Linked DNA regions of Homo sapiens. The protein of the gene in region 2 interacts with the protein of the main gene of each other region in a pairwise test. Each region holds a gene or a part of one and is shown on either strand. Other genes may lie near its edges. The genes, in order: TMEM171, MIER1 and EZR.

Evidence for each region.
Region 1: the proteins of MIER1 (region 2) and TMEM171 interact in binary tests that used the Homo sapiens proteins (3 or more experiments, as listed by UniProt).
Region 3: the proteins of MIER1 (region 2) and EZR interact in binary tests that used the Homo sapiens proteins (3 or more experiments, as listed by UniProt).

Annotation. Positions count from the first base shown.
Region 1 is NC_000005.10:73,116,449-73,124,131, forward strand, and holds the start of TMEM171 (transmembrane protein 171), read left to right. Parts: upstream 1-4,126; 5' UTR 4,127-4,248; intron 4,249-6,857; 5' UTR 6,858-6,925; coding exon 6,926-7,565; intron 7,566-7,683. Other genes in the region: uncharacterized protein LOC124901001, read right to left, coding at 3,280-3,981.
Region 2 is NC_000001.11:66,927,581-66,935,412, reverse strand, and holds part of MIER1 (mesoderm induction early response protein 1), read right to left. Parts: intron 6,527-7,832; exon of another isoform or gene 6,524-6,526; coding exon of another isoform or gene 6,450-6,523; intron 5,158-6,449; exon of another isoform or gene 5,022-5,157; coding exon of another isoform or gene 5,013-5,021; intron 1-5,012. UniProt on the Homo sapiens protein: Transcriptional repressor regulating the expression of a number of genes including SP1 target genes. Probably functions through recruitment of HDAC1 a histone deacetylase involved in chromatin silencing.
Region 3 is NC_000006.12:158,781,055-158,788,886, reverse strand, and holds part of EZR (ezrin), read left to right. Parts: intron 1-1,683; coding exon 1,684-1,779; intron 1,780-3,303; coding exon 3,304-3,578; intron 3,579-4,159; coding exon 4,160-4,243; intron 4,244-5,220; coding exon 5,221-5,367; intron 5,368-7,832. UniProt on the Homo sapiens protein: Probably involved in connections of major cytoskeletal structures to the plasma membrane. In epithelial cells, required for the formation of microvilli and membrane ruffles on the apical pole. Along with PLEKHG6, required for normal macropinocytosis.

The DNA.
Region 1 (7,683 bases), on a different chromosome or scaffold from region 2:
AGCAGCAGAAGCCCCCTGCTCTGGGTGAAACTCATGCCTCCCAGCCGCACTAGCTGTGCTCTGCACCCCAGAAACATCTGAAAACTGCACTTGGTTGGCACCAGCCCCTCCCTTGCTTTGTGTGTTTAGAACCCTCCAAAGGACTAATTGTTACTCTTCCAGAGAGGGAGCCCAGCCTCCTCAATTTTGTAATGTCACTCACAGACCACAGGAAAGTATTCCTTCCGAATTCCTGAACTCCAAGCCTCCATATTCAATTGCCTACTCAGCTTCTCTACTCGGATGTCTAATGGACAAAATTAACATGTCCCCAAATGGACTCTGAAGCTCCTCCTCTCAAACTTGTCCCACTCTTAGGATTCCCCATCTTGCTCATGCCAGAACCATTCTTCCACTTGCTCAGATCCAAAACCTTGGAATCAAAACCCACATGTGGTTCATGGAAAATCCCATTGACTCTATCTTCAAGATATATCCAAAGTCTCATCCCTTTCATCACCTTCATACACAAGCTACAGACATAACTCCTGGGTTGTTACCACAGCCTCCTAACTGGCCTCTTCCCATCCATCCTGGCTCCTCCTTGGGCTATTCTTACTGCAACAGCCACCAATTTCTTTTTTAAAAGAAATCAGATCACATCACTGTCAAAGCTCATCACATCAGCTCAAAAACCATTCAAAGGCTTCCCACCTACTTAAAGGCCCTGCACAACCTGGTGCCCTTGGCCCTGCACATGCCTTTCCTCTCTGACCTCCTCTCCTACTCTCCCCCTTGCTCACCAACTGCAGCCACCCTGGCCTCTTGCTCTCCTTTGAATATGCTAATATGTGTGTTCCTACCTCAGGGCCTTTGCACCTGTGGTTACTTCTGCCTGAAGCACTCTTCCCTACTTCCCACAAAAAATCACGAACTATGCTTACAAATTCTTACTCTTCCCTACAAGAGGTGGCACCTAATCCCATTCCCCTTGACTTTGTGACTCAATTCTAAGGACCAGAATAAAGAGAAGTGATGGTATGGAAGTGCAGAGCCTCGTCAGAAAAGGCACCACAGCTTCCCCTTTGTTTGCTCTCCCTTGGATCACTCACGTGAGGGGAGGCTGGGTGGAGAAATCCACATAGTGAGGAACTGAGGCCTCCTGCCAATAGCCCTGTGAATGTGCCACCTTGGCAGCAGATCCTCCAGCCCCAGTCCAGCCTTCAGATGACCACAGCCCTGGCCAACTGCTAGACTGCAGCCTCTGAGAGGCTCAGCCAGAAGTACCCAGCTAAGCCACTTGCAGTTTCTGACCCTGATCAGAAACCCTGAGAATACATTTTTGCTGTTTCAAACTTCAAAGTTTTGGGGTAAGTTGTTATGCAATAATAGATCATTGATACACTTGCTTCCTCATTCCCTTCAAGTTTTTGCTGCAATCTCACCTTCTCAGAGATGCCTTCCTTAACTCCCCTATTTAAAATGGGGTGCTCCCCAGTCCCCATCTGTGATTTATTGTTCTCCCTGGCACTCAATCACTTTCTAATTCTCTGTATAACTTACATATTTTATTGCCTTTCTCCTCAATAAAATACAAGTTCCGTGTTTTATTGGTAGTTGGTAAATCTGTGCTGGCTAAATACATGAACACATGCCTCTGCTTTATGCTTCTACAGTCACTGAATTCGAGGTTTTTAATCTTGTTCTGATGCTGTTTTTCTAAGGATTCGGTCTGGCTTTTATCTTTTTCACTACCACACAGGCCAGGGAAGACCACTAGATAGTGACCAGGCCACGCAGCTTCTCTCCTAAGGCTAGGTGGGCTACAAAGATAAGTACCTCAAAGGCTGGTGGGTATGTCTTTCATACATAATCGATGATCAATTTCCAAGGAGTTTAATTTAGTCAAACAGGCTCTCATAGACACAAACAGTGAGAACAGCAGATATACCAAGTGGAGGCTAATCTGATTGTCCTTGGTGCCAGGATATTCAAGTCTGTCATGGGTGGTGAGCCTGCAGTCATGTGGCACCAGAGGGGCAGCTGTATCAACAGGCCCCTTGCAGGCCTGCACATGACATGGCCAGAGATTCAGTTTCAAATAAGGGGGAAGGGAAGAATGAGTAGGGAAAGGACAAGGAAACCCTTTTGCACAATGAAGAGTTGTTCACAGGCCTGTGTCAGAGGGGACAAATCCTATAATGAGGGCCTGAGTTCTTAGAAAGCCAGTGCCTGCTGTTGTACAATCCACTCTTGGGTATCTGCCCATTCGCTGGACATGCTTTGGTGCCCTTCCAGAAGGTGGTATACCTTGACACTTGGACCAGGAAGGATATCTCCACCCCAAACATAGATTACTGCAATGTCCTTGGGACACAGTGCCTGTATTGTTATAATAATCTAAACGTGCTTGGCATCACAAGGCCATGAGGGCGTTTTCTGGGTTCACAGCATGGTGTGTTCTCTGAGTGACAGGTGTGCTGCGGGAGAAACACTGAATGGTCAGCGCATCTGCATCTGGCTCAGGCCTTCTCTGCATGTCAACCAGCTGCAGAGGTTACTTTACCTCTGTCAGCCTGGACCTCAGTTTCCTCAACTGACAAATGACTGTTTTTCTCAGTCTCCTGTCCCCTGCTGCCTCCAACCTTTTCTGAACTGCTGGAGAGATGTAGCAAAGAACCACAAAGCAAGGGGTCGTGAGTGTTGGCATTGTTCATTTCGACAGTAATCAGGGCTGTTAGTTATGGCGGGGATTTACAGAGGTCGGGCACCCTGGCTATGAAAAAGTCCACCTTTGGCCACCCAGGCAAGTGCCCCACCAAATTCCAATGGCAAGAACTTGTCCGTTCTGCCTCCCTGGTGAACCCTAAAGCCCAGGTAACCCCCTCCCCTCTTTACCTCTCTGACTGGTTCTTTAAGTCTCTTCTCACCTCTGATGATTAGCTAAGCCTGCTTCATACTTTACCTTCAGTGAGCATGACCAGGAATCTCTTGTTGTATCAGGTAGGTAAAGTGCTTGCTTGCACATTGAAAAGTTTCATCCATTGGCCTTAACTCTAGATAGGGTTTCAGGCAAGGCAGACAGGAAGCTGAGAAGAGAAGGCAGGGCTGGGAAGTCCCCGTGGCTCAGGGCACCTCTGCGCTTGGGCAGAGAACCCTTGACTCACCTTCCACCGTGCCCTGACCCCTGGTGTGGAAACTAGCACAGTTGGATCCGTATCACGTGTCACGGGGCTGGTTACAAATAGCACAGGGATTGGCAAACTCATCCCGAAACTCCCGGTTCAAGGGCAGGGAAAGTTACCAGTTTAATTCCGGCAGATCATTAGTGGTGGAGAACCAGGAAGGGGGTTCTATCGCAAAGGAGGGCTGTGCGCAGACACGTGGGTGCGGGAGGGGCAGAGCTGGTCCGGCGCGGGGCTTGCCGCGTCTCGGCCTCAGTCTCGGAGCCAGGACCTCAGGCCTGAATGGCTGGGTGTGGAGGGCCCTTGTCTCACATTCTGTAGAGCGCACGTCGTCCCGTGACCTGGTGGCTCCATATTCGATGGGGAGCTCGCAGCGAGTCGCTTCCCTCTGTAACCCCACTCCAGGTCTCCAGAGCAGTAGGAGGGCCACAGGGCTGCTGGGTGTAGTCGCCCCGGACCTCGCGGTGGCCAAGGCCAAGGCGGCCGGGGCACGGTACCCTGTTCGGCCTGGGCCGCAACCACGAAGGAGGCGGTGGAGGCGGGGGCCGGCGCTTCCTCCGCGCCCCCCACGCCGCCGCTCTCTCGCGCCCCTATAGAACTGGGCCTCAGGCCTCGAGGGGGAGCGGGCCTCGGCGGGCGGGGCGCACAGTTCCGCCAGCCGGCGGGGGCATCTCAACTCGCCGGCCCCGCCAGGTGTGCGGGCCAGGCAGCCGTGGAAGGTGCCCATTTCTCCCAGATTCCTCGCGCGCACGGCCACGAGCGCGGAGGCTGCCAAACCCGCCAGCCCTGGGTTCCGAAGCCGCCCCTGGCTCTCCATTCCCTCGCGGGCGCGCCCCGGGCCCCCAGTGGCGGCCAGCTCCCACCGGTCGCTCCTGCACTGCCCTGCCCTGCCCTCCCCGGGCCGCCGCGCCCGCGCAGCACCGCCTCCTTCTCTAAATACTGCCGGGTCCGCCCTCCGCACCAGGACGCGCGGTGGGTAGGGTGCAGGGCGGCCGGCGCAGCCGAGGCCGCGTGCGGAGGCGGACGCCGCGCCCAGCCAGTGCCCACAGCAGCGCGGTCAGCCAGGCGCCGGACCCAGCTTCAGGTAAGCTGCCCCGGCCCGCGCGCCTGCGCCGGCGGCGGCGGGTCGGGCGCTGAGCTGTGCGGCCAGGCTGGGCGCGGGGAGCCGCGGCAGCGCGGAGGCGCTGGGTATCCGAGCCCAACCTGCGTCCCTGCGAGCCCCTCCGGCTGTTGCTTGCGCTCGGGCTCCCTAAAAGCCGCAAACCGATTTCGCACAGAAGGCATTTGCCTCTCGTTTCGTTCCCCAAACGCACCATAGCTTTGGACGTGGAGAGGTGCTGTGAATTTTGGAAATGTCTTTTGGAAAACCAATAGGAGTGTTGGAGAGGGGAGTTTGGCTTTGGGGAGTTTAAGTGTAGGGTGGTGTTTGGAAAAGGTTTCATTGCGAGTGAATGTGGGTGTCTTTGTATCCGTTTGTGAGTGCATCTGTGGGAGAAGGAGAGAGAGAGAGTATTTCCACACTATTATGGATCAGAGGTGAACACTCAGCCAGGTGCTCCGTCCACTAGTCCACGGACAAGAAACTACAGATTCAGTTTTGGGCTTCTATTTACTGGTGTTTGGGAATTTGCCTTAAGACAGTTGAAGCCTTGTGACTCACTGCAAAGTTGACTATACTGGGAATAAATGAATTCCTGATAGGACTTTGCAGCCGAGAATCACCCTTCTCTTTCTTGTCTCCGAAACCGCAAAAGAGATTGCATGATTCAGGAAAAAAATTAAAACAACAACAATAACAAAAAACCAATATATATAGGTTTCAGGACTCTCCATCGTTTCATTCCACTGAGAGTTTTGGAATGTACTCCCTGTAGGATAAATGAGGACTACTGTATACTCAATATGAAATTCTTATTCACTGCAGGATGTTACTGACTTAATAAAAAATGGGAAGATTAAAAAATTAGTGCAATGCTTTGTCTCAGCTTAACTGCATCTGTATATCAAGTTTTTCCAAGTTTGAAATGAAAGCTTTTTTCCCTCCTATATTTCCTTTTTTTCTCCAACTTCCTTCTGATTCTATCATACTTTTTCCTGGAAAAGTTTTTCCCAGTGTAAGATTGCCTGTTTGCTTTCTTTACCTAAACTGACCTTCCCTCAGTGTGATTTTGGTTTGTCAAGATCATCTTGGGCTTAGGGCCTCAGTCTTGAGTTCCTTCATGGGACCATGGATGTGAGCGGCACAAAATATTTTAAAAGTTTTCTTTCCTTGGGCAGGTGAAAATAGTCTTCACGATTTTGGATTGTCTTTGCAATTGCAGGACCTGACTTACGGGGTCCTGGTAAAATATCCCATTCATTGGAGTAAAATAAGATAACGAGATAATTAGGTCAGCTCTGTGTAAGCTAGACAACTCTTTAACAACCACTTGGCATATTTAATATATTATACCCCTGAAGTACAGGGCTTGGGTGATTTTCTGGAAGGTGCTTTCTCACTTGATTCCACTTATACTATTCTTTCAAAGCCAAGTTCCCCCCTTCCACCCATTTTGTGCTTTATAACTAGCAGTTTTATTGGCTGCTTGTTTTTTAACTGAGTCTCAACCTCTTTGTGGAAGTAGGTGACACCATGGAGGAGGGTGAGTGAGAGGCCACACCAGCCTTTGGGTACCTGTCCACTCTGAAAATTGAGCTCCTGTTGACCTGCTGTGCAACACTTTCCAGGGTCATCCCAGATCCAAGCAACTGGGTCACCAGTCTGTGCTTGTTGAGAACCCAAGAACCATTTTGTTTTGTTTTGTTTTGTTTTTGGCAGGGTCTCACTCTGTTGCCCAGGCTGGAGAGTAGTGGCGTGATCTTGGCTCACTGCAACCTCCAGCTCCTGGGCTCAAGCAATCCTCCCACCTCAGCCTACCAAGTAGCTGGGACCACAGGCACCATGCCTGGCTAAAGTTTGTATTTTTAGCAGAGATGGGGTTTTGCTATGTCACCCAGGCTGGTCTCGAACTCCTGAGCTCAAGCAATCTGCCTGCCTCTGCCTCCCAAAGTGCTGGGATTACAGGCGCAAGCCACCACGCCTGGCCTCAAGAACCACATTTTGATAGAATCAACTTAAAAGTCCACCAAACCCACTGTGTTCCTGAACAGACTTCTTATTCTATTGAAATTGCTGAAATTGGGTCTTTTGTAGATGTAGCCTTAGAATAAAACATGAAATGGAAAGCTGCTGTAGTCTAAAACAGGAAATGGAAAGTTAGTTACTGAACTGACTTGAAAATGCTGAGAGCAGCTATGATGAAAAGTGGGGCATTTGCAATCAGAAAGAATCCCTGTGGTTCTTCCCTCATTCACCAGTGCTTTTTTCCCCAGGGAAATGAGTTTGTAAGACTCAGAAAAGGAAATGCCACACCCAGCTACTTTTGTTCTTTCAGTTTTTAAAAAAGATACCCTTAGATGTGTAGTAATTTAATTTCCTGTTTTGAATATCTTGTAAAATTACATATTTAGGAGTTTCTGAATGCTAGTTTATCTGACTCATAAACCAACTCATTGTTCTACAGCTTATCAGTTGTATAAAGTTCTACCCCCAAGGCCTCATTGTGGTGTGATTTCAGAAATGATCAGCAAAAAACCAGGGTGGTTCTGGAACACCTGTGCCCACGTTAATTTGGTGTTTGGTTGTGTTTGCAGAGCTGCTGAAATCTTGGAGGGAAGAAAACACATCCCACCCTGCCTCCGGGAAGGGGCCTCTCCTGGACATGTCTCCTGCAGCTGCTGCTGAGCCAGATGGGGACCAGCAGGACAGACACGTCAGCAAACTCATCTTCTGCTTCTTTGTCTTCGGCGCCGTCTTGTTGTGTGTGGGAGTCCTGCTCTCCATCTTTGGGTTCCAGGCATGCCAATATAAGCCCCTCCCAGACTGCCCCATGGTGCTCAAGGTGGCGGGGCCTGCATGTGCCGTGGTTGGGCTTGGGGCTGTGATCCTGGCCCGCTCCCGGGCGCAACTTCAGCTCCGTGCAGGGCTGCAGAGAGGTCAGCAGATGGACCCCGACCGAGCCTTCATCTGTGGAGAGAGCCGCCAGTTTGCCCAGTGCCTTATCTTTGGGTTTCTGTTCTTGACAAGCGGCATGCTCATCAGCGTCCTGGGCATTTGGGTCCCTGGATGTGGCTCCAACTGGGCGCAGGAACCGCTAAACGAGACAGACACTGGCGACTCAGAGCCCCGGATGTGTGGGTTCCTTTCTCTGCAGATCATGGGGCCCTTGATTGTGCTTGTGGGATTGTGTTTCTTCGTGGTTGCCCATGTTAAGAAGAGAAACACGCTGAATGCTGGCCAGGATGCCTCTGAGAGAGAAGAGGGACAGATCCAGATTATGGAGCCTGTCCAGGTCACTGTAGGTGGGTTGCTGTTATTTGCGTTCTTGCTTCTATCACAGTGGCTTTGCAGCAGGGTTTCACCAGCTGCTCTTGGTTCTCGTCTGGATTCTCTTTCTCAATTCTTCCATCTCTCACACAT
Region 2 (7,832 bases):
CTAGAGAGACAGAAAGACTGTACACAGAGTATGAATGGGCTAAAACAAATTAAAAACAAACTCTAGCAACTTTTATAGCAAGTTGACCCTCACCCACATATTTGTATGATTTAGTTGATAAAATTGCTAATAGTTGTAACGAATATTCAATGCCTCAGATTTGCTGAAATAATTCTCTTTTATATTTTTCTAGAACATGGTGGGAAATGTCCCATACAACAGAAGACTATAATTTGAGAGAGAGTAAAGAAATAACTAACTACAACATTACCATTATTTTCACCAAAAAAACCCTAACAACAACATAGTAAAAACATGAAGTAATTACTAGATTTTTTTATTCCAGGCAATCAAAAGCTTATTTGCAATGAGTATTACCGTCTGAACAAATTTTTCCCCTCAAAACAATTCTACCACCATTTCTTTTAAGTATTGCCGTCATCTACTTAGTTATGTAGACTCTAAGTCAGAGATTCTCACAGCAATGGAGATGGGGATAGAAGCCTGGAAAGAGGGGTCCTACTTTAGGGTGAAAGATGGTTACCGTGCCAAGGGCTGGCTCACCATCCCTCTCCTCCAATAAAATTAAGTTACTTAACTTTGTTATTACTCTCAGGAATTCTGGGGTATAAAAAGGTTAAGAATGTACTGAAATTAAAATTAGCAATTTACTACAGTATTAATAATTCAGAAGTAAAATGATATCATAGAAAATAAGGACTGGGAACAGTGGCACACGCCTATAATCCCAGCACAAGACAGGAGGATCACTTAAGGCCAGAAGCTCGAGACCAGTCTGATCAACATATCGAGACCCTGTCTCCACAAAAAAAAAAAAAAGCCGGGCATGATGGCACATGCCTATAGTCCCAGCTACTTGAGAGGCTCTGAGGGAAGGATTGATCACCTGAGCCCAGGAGTTTGAGGTTGTAGTGAGCTATGATTTGCGCCACTGCACTCCAGCCTGGGCAACAGAGAGAGACCCTGTCTCAAAAAAAAAAAAAAAAGAAAGAAAGAAAAAGAAAATAAGCACTAGGAATCTAGGAATACAGAAGGCTGGGTTCCAGTCTAAACTGTGCCATAGATGAATTGCACGACCTAGGACAAACTACGTAAACTCTCTGCTCACTTTCATTTTCTCTATGATCAAAAGATTTAGATTTCTTCAAGACCTAACTTTACTTTTATTATAAATTGCTCTAGAAACCTAACACTACTAAGGAGTATGCAGCTAAATGCATGGGATATGTTTAAATTTATTTTTTTAAATCTAGGACTGTTAAAAAAATCTCAATTTGCAAAAACAATTTTTTGGGGTGCTACTTCATGAATTTCATACCTACATAATAAGTTATTGTTCTAAGCCACAGAATAAGACAAACAGAACAAGCCCCAAGCAATGACTGGTACTTGAACAATTTAATCACTGCAATGAATTTTGAATGAACATCAAGCCAGGCAGGCATTTCTAGATAGCTGATTACTTTTCATAAAGACATGCTTAAGCTTCAATGGCAGTGTTTTATTTCTGAATTATTTAGAAAACTGGTTAGTCTCACTTACCAGAATTATCTTAAAGTAATTCACTTGTTTCTCCCACCAAACCTTTCCCACCTATTAAAGTACCCTAACTCTTAACTGCCAATGAATTAAGATTTTTAGGACTCTCACGCACTGGTGATCTTGACTACTTTTAAAATCTTAATAGCTCTGAAGTATAAACATGAAAAAAAATTCATTATTAGTGTCGAGAATTATTTGAAGCTTAAATTCACTGCAGTGAAACACATTTTGCTTAGAGTAGAAATTAATGTTTTCATAAGTAACATTTAACATAATCCTTCGTTAAAAAAATCCAAATACACTCAAAAAATACTAAGCAAGGAGTCCATTTTAAAGAGAAATGGATAGGTGTGAAAGTGAATAAACAGATTATATACCCTCTTTGAAAGTACTAAAATACTTAAATAGAAAGAAGCAAATCCATTAATTTTCTCTTTATATCACAGAAATGTGGCCTAGGTGAAAAGACAGGTCTTGAATTGTCCATGGATTTTTTTCCTTGAGAAGAAAGTCCCTTACGTGTTTACAAACGCTAAAATACAAGACAAATTGTTCGTTCCCAAAGGTCCCTAGTACATTCCTTATAAAACCCAAAGGATTAACTATTTCTTCCTCTCATTTTTTCTCTCATTTTCCTCTTATTTTTGCAGTTAGTAAAACTGCAACTATCCTGTAATTTCCTTCAAGTGTGACTAGGAGAGCGTCCTTTTAGAAGGTTGGTAAATAATTTTAAGGGATAATAAGCAATGAGAAATATTGCCAAAAAGTATTAAGCAAGGGAGCATATGCTATTTATTCTAAGTACATTAAATACGGCTTTAATGTTATCACAACTGAAGAACCAATATATACTTCCTATTATGGACTAAGATAATCAGATCAAATATAAAAAATTAGTATATCCTATTCTCATCTAAAGCACTTTCTATTCAAGAATTAAATATTTTTCTGGAAAAACATGGTCAGGGTCATGCTCTTGTAGGAAGCATCAATTTTTTTTTTTAAAAGCCCAGAAGCATAATACCTACATTTTTCTCTGGAGACATACTTCTTCAATAACCTGTTTTCCCCCTCAGATTTAACAAATAGATATATACTGTTGCTTTGCACTTACTGTTACTTCACAAGCTATCCTTAAATCCTCAGATTTATTTGATCAAAAGCACAATAATTCAGCATCTGGATTATTTAATCACATGCTTTTATATTGGCTTCATAAAGAATGAATCTACTGAGAGCTCAAAGTAAAAGCCAACCAAGCATTTCTCCTTTGTCTAATTGTTTAAAACCACTGGTCTCAAAAATCGTCATAATTATTCAAGTATTGAGGCCAGGAAAACTATAAATCAATTGTACTTTTCACTTCTTCACCTGTCTTAGATTTTTTTGTAGGACACAGATCACGAAAGTTCCTCTAACTCTTCCCCAATTCACTATACATGAAACTATCTACAAGTAACTGAAGAATATAGAAGATAAATTGTTTAAAGATACCAGGTCATTAAATAAACACTAAAAACCAAATAAAAACAAAATTCCAGTTCTTTCCTTCTTGCAGTTGAACAATCCATGCGTTCCCACAAAACATTCCATTCTCCAACTGATAAAATATTTAAGAAAACTAAAACATACATTAGAAAATATTAGGAAATGATTAGTGAATCAAAATATTTTTTTCCTTTATCTTACAATAACGCAACCATCTTTAATTTTTAAAACAAAAAAGTTAACATAATTTCTTTTACATATTAGATTTTTTAGTTCCCTCGGCAATAAAATTTATTTTTTAAAAACACAGAAATTTTAAATTTAAGTTTTTTAACTTAAATTTCTCTGTATAAGCTATTTTCCTTCAGTAATATCTTGCCTTAGTATATGACTACACACCTCAAAGCTCAAACCATCCTGAGCAACACCATGAAAGAAGAAACCACATTACCTATGTAGCACATTGCTGCTTACCCGATATTCACTGAAAGGGGTCCACTGAAGACACTAACTGACAAAATGTATAAATCCAGCTACACACAACTCCTTAAACATGAAGGAAACAAACACTTAAGAATAAGAACCTCACCAGGACTAAAATCCAGGTACCGATTCTCAGTCTACTGGAACAAACGCAGTCACATTTTGGGGAAACAGAAAGTACTACGTTCTCCAATTCATGTGCCTGGAAATACAATTCTTTAACCACCAAGAGCAAAAGAAATGAAAATAAATCTAAGATCTAAATTTAGTTGTAAATTAGAGATATTGAATGTTTTAAAAAGAATACTCGCAGCAAACAGTCCTGTCTGCTACAGCAAAATCTCACCCTCCTTCCTAAATCTGTTTTGGGGTGCCTGTGAAACCATGAAAATGGCAATTCAAACAAGAGAAATGCCTTATCAATCAAAATTTACAGTGGCTTATTTCAAAGGAGTCATAAAAAAAATCCAAATACATCATCTCGAACTCTCAGGAATAAAGAATACTGAAATTCTTCCACGGGTAAGGAAAAACGGAAACAAAACAAATCCCACAAAACTTCAGATATTTTAAACATTTTTTAAACTTCCAGTTATTTAAAGTTCCAGTAGCGTATACTTAGTTCCGATTAATAAATCAACAGCAGTTGTATGCCCGCCAACTGCGGCCCAAATATGTAAAATCAAAAAAAGGGGCTTTAGGAACTTGTTTACTATAAAACGAGCAAAAAGAAACAAGAAAAAGCTTCTCCAATGAAAGAAAAATTAGAAGAGAAAGAAGACAAGAATAGGTAGCCTTGATTTGGAAAGGGGGTGGGGGGAAGCCTGGAAAGTGAAGGTGGTGGGGGGAGGTGGAAAAGCAGCTCAGAGGTTGTACCTTGGGGAGCGGGAGATGGAACTGTCTGGATAAATGGGCAGACTCCCCCCAACCTGGAGGGCTGGATTGCGGCTGGCCAGATTAATTTATCCACTCTCATTTTACCACGATCATGAAAATTACAGAGTTAATCAAAGGCCGTCAGCCTTACGTTTTCCCCACTAACACAGACTGGATGTCAGTCGCAAATGGATGGGGGTGACGCGGAAGGGCGCAACAGCATCTCGGTTAGGAAGGGAAAAAACTTCGCAAGAGGAAGCAGCAGCTTCTCTCCTGGCCCCTAGCACCGGCCGGCGAAGTTGCGCCACAGGCACCCCTTCCCCGGCGGGCGCCCCCTCCCCCTCGCACCGCACTACTACGCTGCACTACCCTTCAAACTGCCCCCGAAGTCCAAGTACGCCTCCGCTTCCTCCTACCCCCGGACCCATCCCAACTAAGTTCCAGGCGAAGCTCCCGCCCAGAGAATGGCCTGTTCCGGACAACAGGTGGGCAGCGGCGCCAGCAGGGCCGGGCCTCTCCTGGCCAGGCCCACTCCACTCCTCCCCGGCCCAGGGCCGGGGGCGCCCGGCTCCGGGACAGGGAGGGGGAGCTCGCTCCCTTACCTCCGCCATATTTGCCGTACTGCCGGGTCACATCTCCGCGGCGGCCGCAGCTGGGTCACGGCCAGAACCCGGATGTGAGACTCAGCAACGGGACTCCGGCCGCTGCCGTCTCTGCCGCTCCCGCCGCCACTGCCTCGGCGGGAACGCGCAGGAGCCGCCCGAGCGCGCCCACCACACCCCACTCCGCCCCCTCGCGGCGCCCCGGCTGGGCTGGACTGGAGGGAAAAGACCAGCGAGCACGCGCCGGAGCAGGGGCGCGCGCGCGGCCCCGCGGCCAGCCCTCCCCGGGAAGAGCGGAGGGGGCGGAGTCAAGGTGGGTGTGGGAGGAGGTGGGCAACCGCGCGGGGCGCTTCGCTGGCTCCAGCTGATCCGCCACTCCAGGCGGAGGGGGTTGTCTACGGATCAGAGAGGTCAAGGAACAGTGCCAAAGGAGTCACATCCAGCATTGACACAGCAGAGGAAAAATACGTAATATTTTACATGTAGGTCGTTTTTGAAATGCATTTGCTGAAAAACGGATGTTGCTGTGATGCAACGGCGGCAAGAACTGTGCTTTGAAAGCGGTTATGCCTTGACAAATATTTCTCCATCAGTAGATTCCCGACAGGAAATGTAAAATTCTATATCCCCAAATCTCTAGAGAGGTCAGAGCAAAAATTAATGGAAGGGGTTATGATAGGCAGTCCGCCATCCTCATGTCATTTGCGTTTTCTCACACACTTCTGTCATGCCGGTAGCAACACAGTTATGTACTGAATTTTGCACAACTAGACAAAATTTAAAATACTGAAAATTGACTGTTTTATGGATATCATCTATTTAGTAGCATGGAGGGAGAACCTACTTATTTGCAATGCCTGAAATGCCTGTAACTTGAAAGTTTATTTTAATGTATTGGCCTACAGCTGCCAATTGGCCGTGATGCCAATGCTGATGATGGCCAGAACCAATGATTTCAAAGTAACTAACATGTTTCACTTCCATTATACTAAGGCACATACTGAATAACACAAAGGTGACATTAAAACAGTCACTAACATATTTTACTAAACCAGTTTGAAAGTCTTTATTTCAAAAGACTGGGATTTTTTTCCTAATCTTCAAGGGTTCCTCTTAATGCAGTTTCAAAAGTGGCTACCAAAATCAACCATTTAAATACGAGAATTATTCATTCCTTCCAAATAATGTGAACCAATACTACATTGCATAAATGTGTACATATACAATTTTTCTTAAAGTTAATACTTAACTTATAATGCAATATAGGGGAGGCTATTAAATTATTTATATTCCCTTAAAATTCTAGACTCTATCAAGCATTTTCCTATTTCCAAAGATTCAATGTTAATTTGAAACTGTTATGTCCAATAATAATCTGTGCATGAATAAACTGCATTTACAGATATATGAAGTAGCTGCTAAGTGAAAGGACATTACCTGGTAATTTGACAGGAAAAGAGTCCACAGACAGTCTGTAAACCAATTAAACATAAACATCTGATGCACATTTTCTACTGAAAGAAAAGCAAGGGAAAGAAGAGAAAGGAAAACTTTAAGGTTCCCAAATCTACAAACAATTTTTACCATTAACTGTACTGTACAGTATTTTCATTTTATTTTTTAGAAAACTTATATAAAAGTGTTTTTCAGGATTCCTTGGGGGAATAAATATTTTAGCAGAGGTATATAGTTTCTAATAGTTACCCTGTTGAATTATGTCAATCCTCTGGACTTGAAATAAAAATGACTTTTTAAAAGTGTCAGTTCATATCCAAATAGTTTTCAATCAATACACTTAATGAAAAGAGCTGAAGGCAAAGAACAATGGATATACATGGACCTGAGGTGGGTACAGACACAATTAGGGGCCTAGAGGTACAAACTCAGGCTTTATACCATGGAGATGAAGGAGGGTTTTCCATTAACATATGAAAGCTAATTTATGAAATTTGGCTACCAAAGGAAAATTAAAAGTGTTACAATACAAGGTACAGAAATAACTTGCTTAAGTACACTGAATCTTTGATTCTTCAGTTAAACTACCAACAGAAATCCCAACTATGATAAAGAGCAGGGGATCATAGTCTATTAACCTACTGAATGAATCCTAAACTTGTCAGGAAAATGGAAGTCTGAAACATTTCTGAATGGGTATCTATCTTACTGTTAAATAACTCTTTAAGTTTATTAATATTGTGTATCAATATTACTAGTTTTAAATGGTATTATTATTATTGAGGGAAAAAAACTCTCTACATTTTTCCCCTTCCCCTTTTTATAAATGTGGATTCAGTGGGTTTTTTAGGTTCAGATATTATAAAAAAGAAACAGCTCTAATACTGCAATTCATAGGTAACACATTACCACTGAATTCAGTATCCTTCCACTATTATTTTATTTTAGTGATACACCTAACTGTAAAATTTTCAGGAGCCACCTTACGGAATGAAAAGTCTTTCTCAAAACGCTTACTTACCCTCTTCAGTATTAAATATATAAAAATTAACTATTCACTAGTTATAGAATTTTAGTGTTGGATGGGACCTTAGAGATCTTTTAGTCAATTCTCTACCCTGTCAAGATAGTAATCTCTCATCATGCTTCTACTACCAGGCTTTCTGCCTATGTTTAAACCCCTCCAGTGACTCACTATATCTCATAAAAAGGCTGCTCTTTTCAAAAAAAGTTCAAATGTTTAAAACATTCTTTCTTTTATTATGCCAGAATCTACCTCCTTGTTGTTTCCATCCATTACCCTTAGTTCTTCAGCACTTTGGATTAATTCAACAGATATCTTCTTTGTATCCAAATGCAAACAGT
Region 3 (7,832 bases), on a different chromosome or scaffold from region 2:
CACTGCGTGGATGAGTGAGCCTTAGTTGTCTCAGTTGCTGCAGCTTCTCATTTCTAAGTGATCGTACCTGAACATCTATGAAAGGAAGAAATGAAGATTTAGAGAAATAATTCACTTTTTAAAATTGGAAGATTTTTTTAAATCAAGTATTTATTAGTGATATTACTACTTACTTATTAAATACTTTTTTCCCCAATAACAGCTGCTTCAAATACAGCGTTGTTTTTTTTTTTTTTCTTTGAGACTGAATCTCACTCTGTTGCCCCGGCTGGAGTGCAATGGTGCAATCTCAGCTCACTGCAACCTCTGTCTCACAGGTTCAAGCAATTCTCCTGCATCAGCTCCCCGAATAGTTGGGATTACAGGCACATGCTACCACGCCCTGCTAATTTTTGTATTTTTAATAGAGACAGGGTTTCGCCATGTTTGCCAGGCTAGTCTCGAACTCCTGAACTCAAGTGATCCACCCGTCTTGGCCTCCCAAAGTGCTGGGATTACAAGTGTGAGCCACCACGCTCAGCTTGCAGCCTTCCCCCATCCCTTTTGGGTGAGTGGGAAGAGGGGGAAGAACAGGTCAGTCCTGGGCATTTAATAAACAGACTTCTAGAGCTTTAGGGAGCCTCTGGCCTCCCTGCACCCTTCAGATGAAGAAACAGGCCCAGATCAGGAGTTAATTTGGAATTTTAGGATTTACTTTAAGCAAATGCTCTGTATACCTGAGTTGTCATTTCTAATGTATTCAACCCTCTTTGGCATTAAATATGATAGAAGCCATGTATTTGAAGGATGGTAGCATTTTTTAAAGTTTAACATTATATATCATGGGATTTTAAATTAGACATCTATGTATATGTAAATAGTCGAACTTGTCTGGGACTCGGTTTAGATGATGTTCAACAAATGTCCACAGCAAGTTCGACTATCACTGCTTTTCTGTTTACAAGACAGTCGTGAGACTAAGCAGCTCAGGACTCCTGTAATGCACAACAGAGGCTTGAAAATGTGAAATCTTTGCTGTGACCTAGGGTCGGGATTCTACCTTTGCTGTATCAGAATGTCCCATTTCTGGAGGTCTATAAGATGCAGGTTCCTCTGGGCACCCCTGTGCATTGACACCCTTCCGTCCCAGAAGTCTGCCTTGCCTGTTTTCCTGCCTTTCCTAGGATTTCTTTGTCCCTGTTCCTAGTAAGTCAGACCCCTGGGCCAGCTGGCTGAGAGGCAGAGGCAGGCAGCCAGAGGAGGCTCAGGTGTGGCACTGGATGCTTTAGTCTTCTGCATGAGCACACCTGACCGGCAGCGATGCACCCACCGCACTGTTCCCTGGGGGGCTGTGGGCTCCCATGGTTCTGTGTGTGCTGGCCATAACCCGCCCTGCTGAGTTTCATGCAGGAGAGCATCCTGGAGTACAAAGGAGTAGGAGTGAGATTTTCTAAGATTTGAAGGTAGAACCCTGAATCTGCTCAAATTTATATTAAAAATAAGTCGTTCATGGCTTTGAGATAATAGCCTCAGTTAGTAACAAGTTATTTGAGTGCAAAAAAAGATGTTGCCCAGTGGTTGGACTGAGCAGATGTCCTGGTTTCCTGGGGACTCTGCTAGACCATGTGATGAACGACAGCCAAAAGCTGTTGCCCTTTTGAGTGAGTTTCTCATGAGTGTTGAGCCTCTCTCTCTCTCACGCAGGTGGTAAAGACTATCGGCCTCCGGGAAGTGTGGTACTTTGGCCTCCACTATGTGGATAATAAAGGATTTCCTACCTGGCTGAAGCTGGATAAGAAGGCAAGTCAGGATTAACTATTTACAGGCTGTGGATTGGGTGTTGGTCTGCTTCATCGATAAGGAAACTGGAGCAACTCACCCTGTCTTTTGTTTTCTGTTCCTTTTTGTTTGTGTAAAAGTTTTTACAGACAAAAAGGTTGCAGGTTTCCAGTAAATGGAGATATCGATTGGAAATCAGATCTGGCATTTCTCCATAGTGCTCACTCATTGGAGCATATGATGGTTAATTGCATAGCTTTTAGTTGACCTTAGTTTTTTCAATGAGATTGTTAATCTTATAAACTGTGAATCATCCACCATCTTGTAAGAACCTGTTATTGCTTTGTTTGAACCTGTGACAGATTATCTTCCAACTTTAAAGAGTGGATAATTCCATTAACCAACCAAAAAGAAAAGTAGTAAGATAAACATTTTCTTCAAACTCTGAAAATTATCCTTTTTTTTTTTTTTGAAACCCCCACTGTCCTCCCAAGTCACAGCAACAAGTTAAAAAGATGATGGGAGGTGGGGAAGAGTGGAGGAGCAGGAGGAATTCTTAACAGTAAGTTTCGGGGTCCAGGGCCCGATTGGCATGTGGCCCCATTCCAGGTCACTGGGGTCATTTCCAAATTTGAGTTCTCCAGGATTGATAGCATCATCCCATGAGGACTGGGGCTTAGTGAGGCAGTAGCTTTGATTTCCAGCTGAGCACAAGAGTGTGATAGTACTTGTTTGTTTTTTGTTGTTGTTGTTTTGAGATGGAGTCTTGCTCTGTCGCCCAGGCTGGGGTGCAGTGGCACGATCTTGGCTCACTGCAACCTCCACCTCCTGGGTTCAAGTGATTCTCCTGCCTCAGCCTCCCAAGTAGCTGGGACTACAGCTGCATGCCATCATGCCCGGCTAATTTTTTTGTATTTTTAGTAGAGATGGGGTTTCACCATGTTGGTCAGGCTAGTCTCGAACTCCTGACCTCGTGGTCCGCCCACCTCAGCCTCCCAAAGTGCTGGGATTACAGTCGTGAGCCACCATGCCTGGCCTGTTTTTTTGTTTTTGTTTGTTTGTTGTTGTTTTTTAAGAAGAGACAGGGTCTTGCTCTGTCACCCAGGCTGGAGTGCAGTGGCGCCATCATAGCTCACTGCAGTCTCGAACTCCTGAGCTCCAGGGTTCCTCCTGCTCAGCTTCTTGAGTAACTGGGACTATAAGCATGCATCACCATCCCCAGCTAACTTTTTTTTAAAAAATGTTGTAGAGATGGGATCTCTTCTACGTTGCCCAGGCTGGTCTTAAACTCCTGGGCTCAAGTGATCCTCCTGCCTTGGCCTCCCAAAGCACTGGGATTATAGGCATGAGCCACCATGTCTGGCCTGTGGTAGCACTTTTGACTAACCTTTTTTTGTCTGGAGTGCTAAAAAGATGACTTTAAGAATAAATATCTCCTGAAAACTGGCTTGAGGGCCCCATTGAGTCTTGGTTAGAAGCCTGTGTTGGGGACAGTGGGCCTTCGTCTTCCGGATTTGTGTGGAGAGTGTGGCTTGTTTCGTGCAGGTGTCTGCCCAGGAGGTCAGGAAGGAGAATCCCCTCCAGTTCAAGTTCCGGGCCAAGTTCTACCCTGAAGATGTGGCTGAGGAGCTCATCCAGGACATCACCCAGAAACTTTTCTTCCTCCAAGTGAAGGAAGGAATCCTTAGCGATGAGATCTACTGCCCCCCTGAGACTGCCGTGCTCTTGGGGTCCTACGCTGTGCAGGCCAAGTTTGGGGACTACAACAAAGAAGTGCACAAGTCTGGGTACCTCAGCTCTGAGCGGCTGATCCCTCAAAGGTGAGCACAGGATGACCCGGCCTGGGCAGGAGCAGTCATGCCGTCCTCGGCAGGGAGAAGTGATTGCCTTAGAAGCACAGTTTAAAAACACAAGGACTTCGCCAGTGTCAAGTGCTCCTTCATGCTAGTCATTAAGTCACTGACCAGCGACCTGAAACATAGCCAGGGAAGGCGAGCTGCCATTCCTCATGGAAACTAAAGCGTGGCCGTGTCCTGTGGGACATGGCATAGCAAACTTCTCGACCTGACTGCTCAGCTCCTCCTGGGGTATGATAGGTTGCCCCTGTGAAATCTGTTTTTATTTAGTAATGGTCACAAAAATTACCCCATTTGGAAGAAGAGGCCACTTAAAATACCTCTTAGTTTTTCCAGCAGAACTGAGTTCTTGTTCAAAATGCTAAGTCTTCCAGATTAACTGTCATAAATAGAAATGCTGCACATCAGGAAATAGAAACCAAAGCTCTTTGGGATTGATTGATTTGAATGGAAAGTAAGGGTTTGAATGTGGGTGGTAAGTGGGCCTCCTTCCTTGCCTGTCACATTCCTTAAGGATGACAGTGCTGTTTCCTTTTGCATTCCAGAGTGATGGACCAGCACAAACTTACCAGGGACCAGTGGGAGGACCGGATCCAGGTGTGGCATGCGGAACACCGTGGGATGCTCAAGTGAGTGCTGTGCCCTGCTGTTGGGATCTTGCCATCTCCGTGCGCTCCAGCATGTCTTTTCCTGTGACTCTAGTTAGTGCTTTAAAGGGCTCTGTGTCAGGCCTTGTGAAGACCTTGAGGGAACCGAGTTAAAAGTGGGGTTTTCTTAGGGAAGAGGTTTTTTTTAAACAAAGCCAGGTGTCTTGCCTGGGGAAAGAAGCAGTTTAGCTCAAGCCTTCAGGTTCTAAAAGCTTACACCCTCCCTTTGTAGAAAGTGTTGTGTCTAAACTTCATCTTAGTCAGAGGGGCATTGTTCACCTGCAATCAGCATTATTCTGTCAAAGAGATGCTGGTTTGCTCATTATATGAAGGTACTTGTCTTACAAAGTGTATATAAATGAAAAAGGATCCCAAGTGAGAAATGCTGATGTCAGAGAACCTGGACGTGGGGCTGTTAATGTAAGACATGGCCGAGCCACCTGATTCTGGGTGTTCTCGTCCTAGAGCCTTGTCTCTGGCCTAGTCTTGCGAGTCTGCATTATTTCAGCCTCTGAAGTTTGTTTGAGGTTTGAGCCTCAGATTTTGTGCTTCAGGGTTTCCTGTCTGGCCCAAACATCCTTTATGGAAGGAAAACAACTCAAAGCCTATGAGGAGGGTTGTGGGAAGACATGTGTGGGCAAGAGAAAAAGGAGGATTGTGCTGAGTGATAAAACTTAAAAACCTGTTAGAGAAACCAGTGTGAATCAGTTCTTCTTCAAAGTGTGGGGTTTGGTGGTGAGGCTCCAGGGCAGCACGGACCCCACCCCAGGCATAGCTTCTGGGCTGTATGGGTCCCCTCCTCACCGGTCGGCTGCCCGGCCCCTGCCTGCCTGCACGCAGCACACAGCATTGAGCCCATCCTACACAAGGCGCCTTAATTTAAAAATACTGGAAAGGTTTTACTGTTCTAGATATTGAGTGCTACCAGTGACTCTGCCTGTTTCACTCTCCCCAATTAGAGATAATGCTATGTTGGAATACCTGAAGATTGCTCAGGACCTGGAAATGTATGGAATCAACTATTTCGAGATAAAAAACAAGAAAGGAACAGACCTTTGGCTTGGAGTTGATGCCCTTGGACTGAATATTTATGAGAAAGATGATAAGTGAGTTGAAGTTCACAGTTATCTTCAGTAGGTAGGGTGGTGGGCCTGGAAACAATGGCAAAATGGCAAATTTGTGGGTTATTTTTGAAGTATTTATTTAGCAACTTACTATCCCAAAGTAGGAAACTTTTTAAAGGGCTTTTGGACTGCTGTGGCCCTCTCAAAGGGTGGTCCAGAGGTGTGGGTTATCCTCTCTCATGGTGGGCGGGGCCGATAGTGGGCTCAGTCCTGGTAGAGGAAGGCAGAATAGAGCAGAGGCTGCCTCTCCTCCCCGCTGCCTCTGAGATTCCACCCCAGCTGCCTGCAGGTACCAGCACATCCATCCATAGCTACTTCGCAGGCAGCCCAGCCAGTGCTCGACTCCTGGCTCGAGGTTTGTGCTAATCCAACCAAGAATATTGATGGTGTGATGAGAGACTTGAAAAGCTGTAAACAATAGCCTGTACGTGTAGACACTTGAGCTAAATGCTGGGAGTCTGCAGGAGATATCTTAATTGCCTCGCATTAGTTACGTTGTTTGTTGAGTGAGGGCCTGTAAGCAAGCTGGGTAGAGCAGCAGAGCCAGGCCTCTCCACAGGGACAGGCAGTTCCGCTTTCACATACAGGGCATTTGCCTTCTTTCTGCTGAGGATAAACAGGGAAAGTCATCCTAGTTCATGAGGGCAAGTTTCCCATGGTGAGTCTGCGACATCAGCATAATCCTAGATTCTGGATTGATCTGATCAGAAGCTACCTGAATTTAAGAGGCAGAAGGAAACTACCTCTGGAAAGAGAAGGGAGAGGCTCCTGACTGCCTCCTGACTACCGTCTCTGCCCTGATTGTCCACAGTCAGCCTGATTGCTCTGCAGGGCTCCCCGAAACAAATCATCTGATGGCCACCAGGTTCAGGGGCCTGGCAGAGAAGGTGCCAGGGCAAGAATGCTCCTGGGGTCTTTTTGCCAAGCCCTGCCTTTTGGCCTGGGTTCCTGCTTTCCACGTAAAGAGCAGAGTGGCCCAGAGTTCCTGGATGTACCGGTTTCCTTCCCAGCCTCATGCTGTTCCTTGAAATGACAGCTCTCCCCATTTCCCACTTGAGGCTCACCCATCTCATCTGTTCTCAGATATTTTTGTTCTCAGCATCCCCACATCTCAGGTTCCCCCAAAACCCTCTCTGGAGTTCTCAAAGGGAGTGGTGCTGCTTTCCACAAATGACCTGCATGAGTCCATCTCCATTTGCAACCACGCGGATTCCTGCCAGACCCCAGGGCACAGATCTATTTCACTTGGGCAAGTCAGGGACCTGTGCCAGCTGTGCCCAACCTCCTCTCACCTCCGGGGCCCACGTGGTGATACTGCACAGGGAGGGAGGCAGGCGCTGTCACAGGAGCTCCTCAGAGAACCTGGAAATGAGATATTGAGGACTCTCGGTTCGCTCCTACTCCAAGTGTGCTGGATGCAGCATTGGTAAAGAAGCACGGAAAAGCCAGGCACAGCGGCTCACACCTGGAATCCCAGCACTCTGGGAGGCCGAGGCAGGCGAATCCCTTGAGCTCAGGAGTCTTGCCCAGCCTGGGGAACATGGCGAAACCCCGTCTCTACCAAAATTTAAAAAATTAGCTGGCTATGGTGGTGCACGCCTGTGGTCTCAGTCAGGTGGCTGAGGTGGGAGGATCACTTGAGCCTGGGAGGCAGAGGTTGTAGTAAGCCAAGATTGCGCCACTGCACTCTAGCCTGGGTGACAGAGCGAGACCGTGTCTCAAAAAAAATTTTAAAGAAGTGGGGAAAGTGGGTACTTGGAACCAGGACACCATCTTTCCGGGAGACCCTAGAGCTGAAGCCGTGGCTATTAAGACAGCCATGCCAAGGAGCAGTGCACAAAGTCCTCGTGGGAACGTATGTGGGAAACTGCCTCTGCCTTGGAAATCTCTTCAATGACCAGATTTTGTAACGTGGCCAGGCCAGGGCTGTCCAAACAGGTTTTTCAACCTGCAGGAAAACAGCCATGGGCAGGAACTTGCTGATGTCAGCTTGTAACTGCCCCAGCCCACGTAAGTGTCCATTTCTTCCAAGTAAAAACGTGAGCTGTGTGCCCTATTTAGTGCTGTTTTTGCGCTCTGCTCCCCCTCCCCCACCATTGAGCGATGAACGTGGCAACTCTCTCAGATGGTTCTTTCCCCACAGAGCATGCTGGGGTGTTGGGCAGGCTCACTTTCTGCCTCTCTTCTCCCCATTCCTGAAGGCACACCCCTCTCTTCATGAAAAAAGCATTTATGTAGATATTCAGTCATTTAATAGGCCCAAATTCTTTCCCTTTTGAACAAATATTGACAACTTGGTAGCAGCATAAGCAGGAGACTGTCCTGAAGTCTGAGGAGTGCTGAGAACTCGCCAGCTGTTGCGCTGTTACCTCTCTCGGTAGAACTAGGAGAATTAGATATGCCTGAAACATTGTTCAGGTGAGAAAGCTGATCTATTGAATATGGAA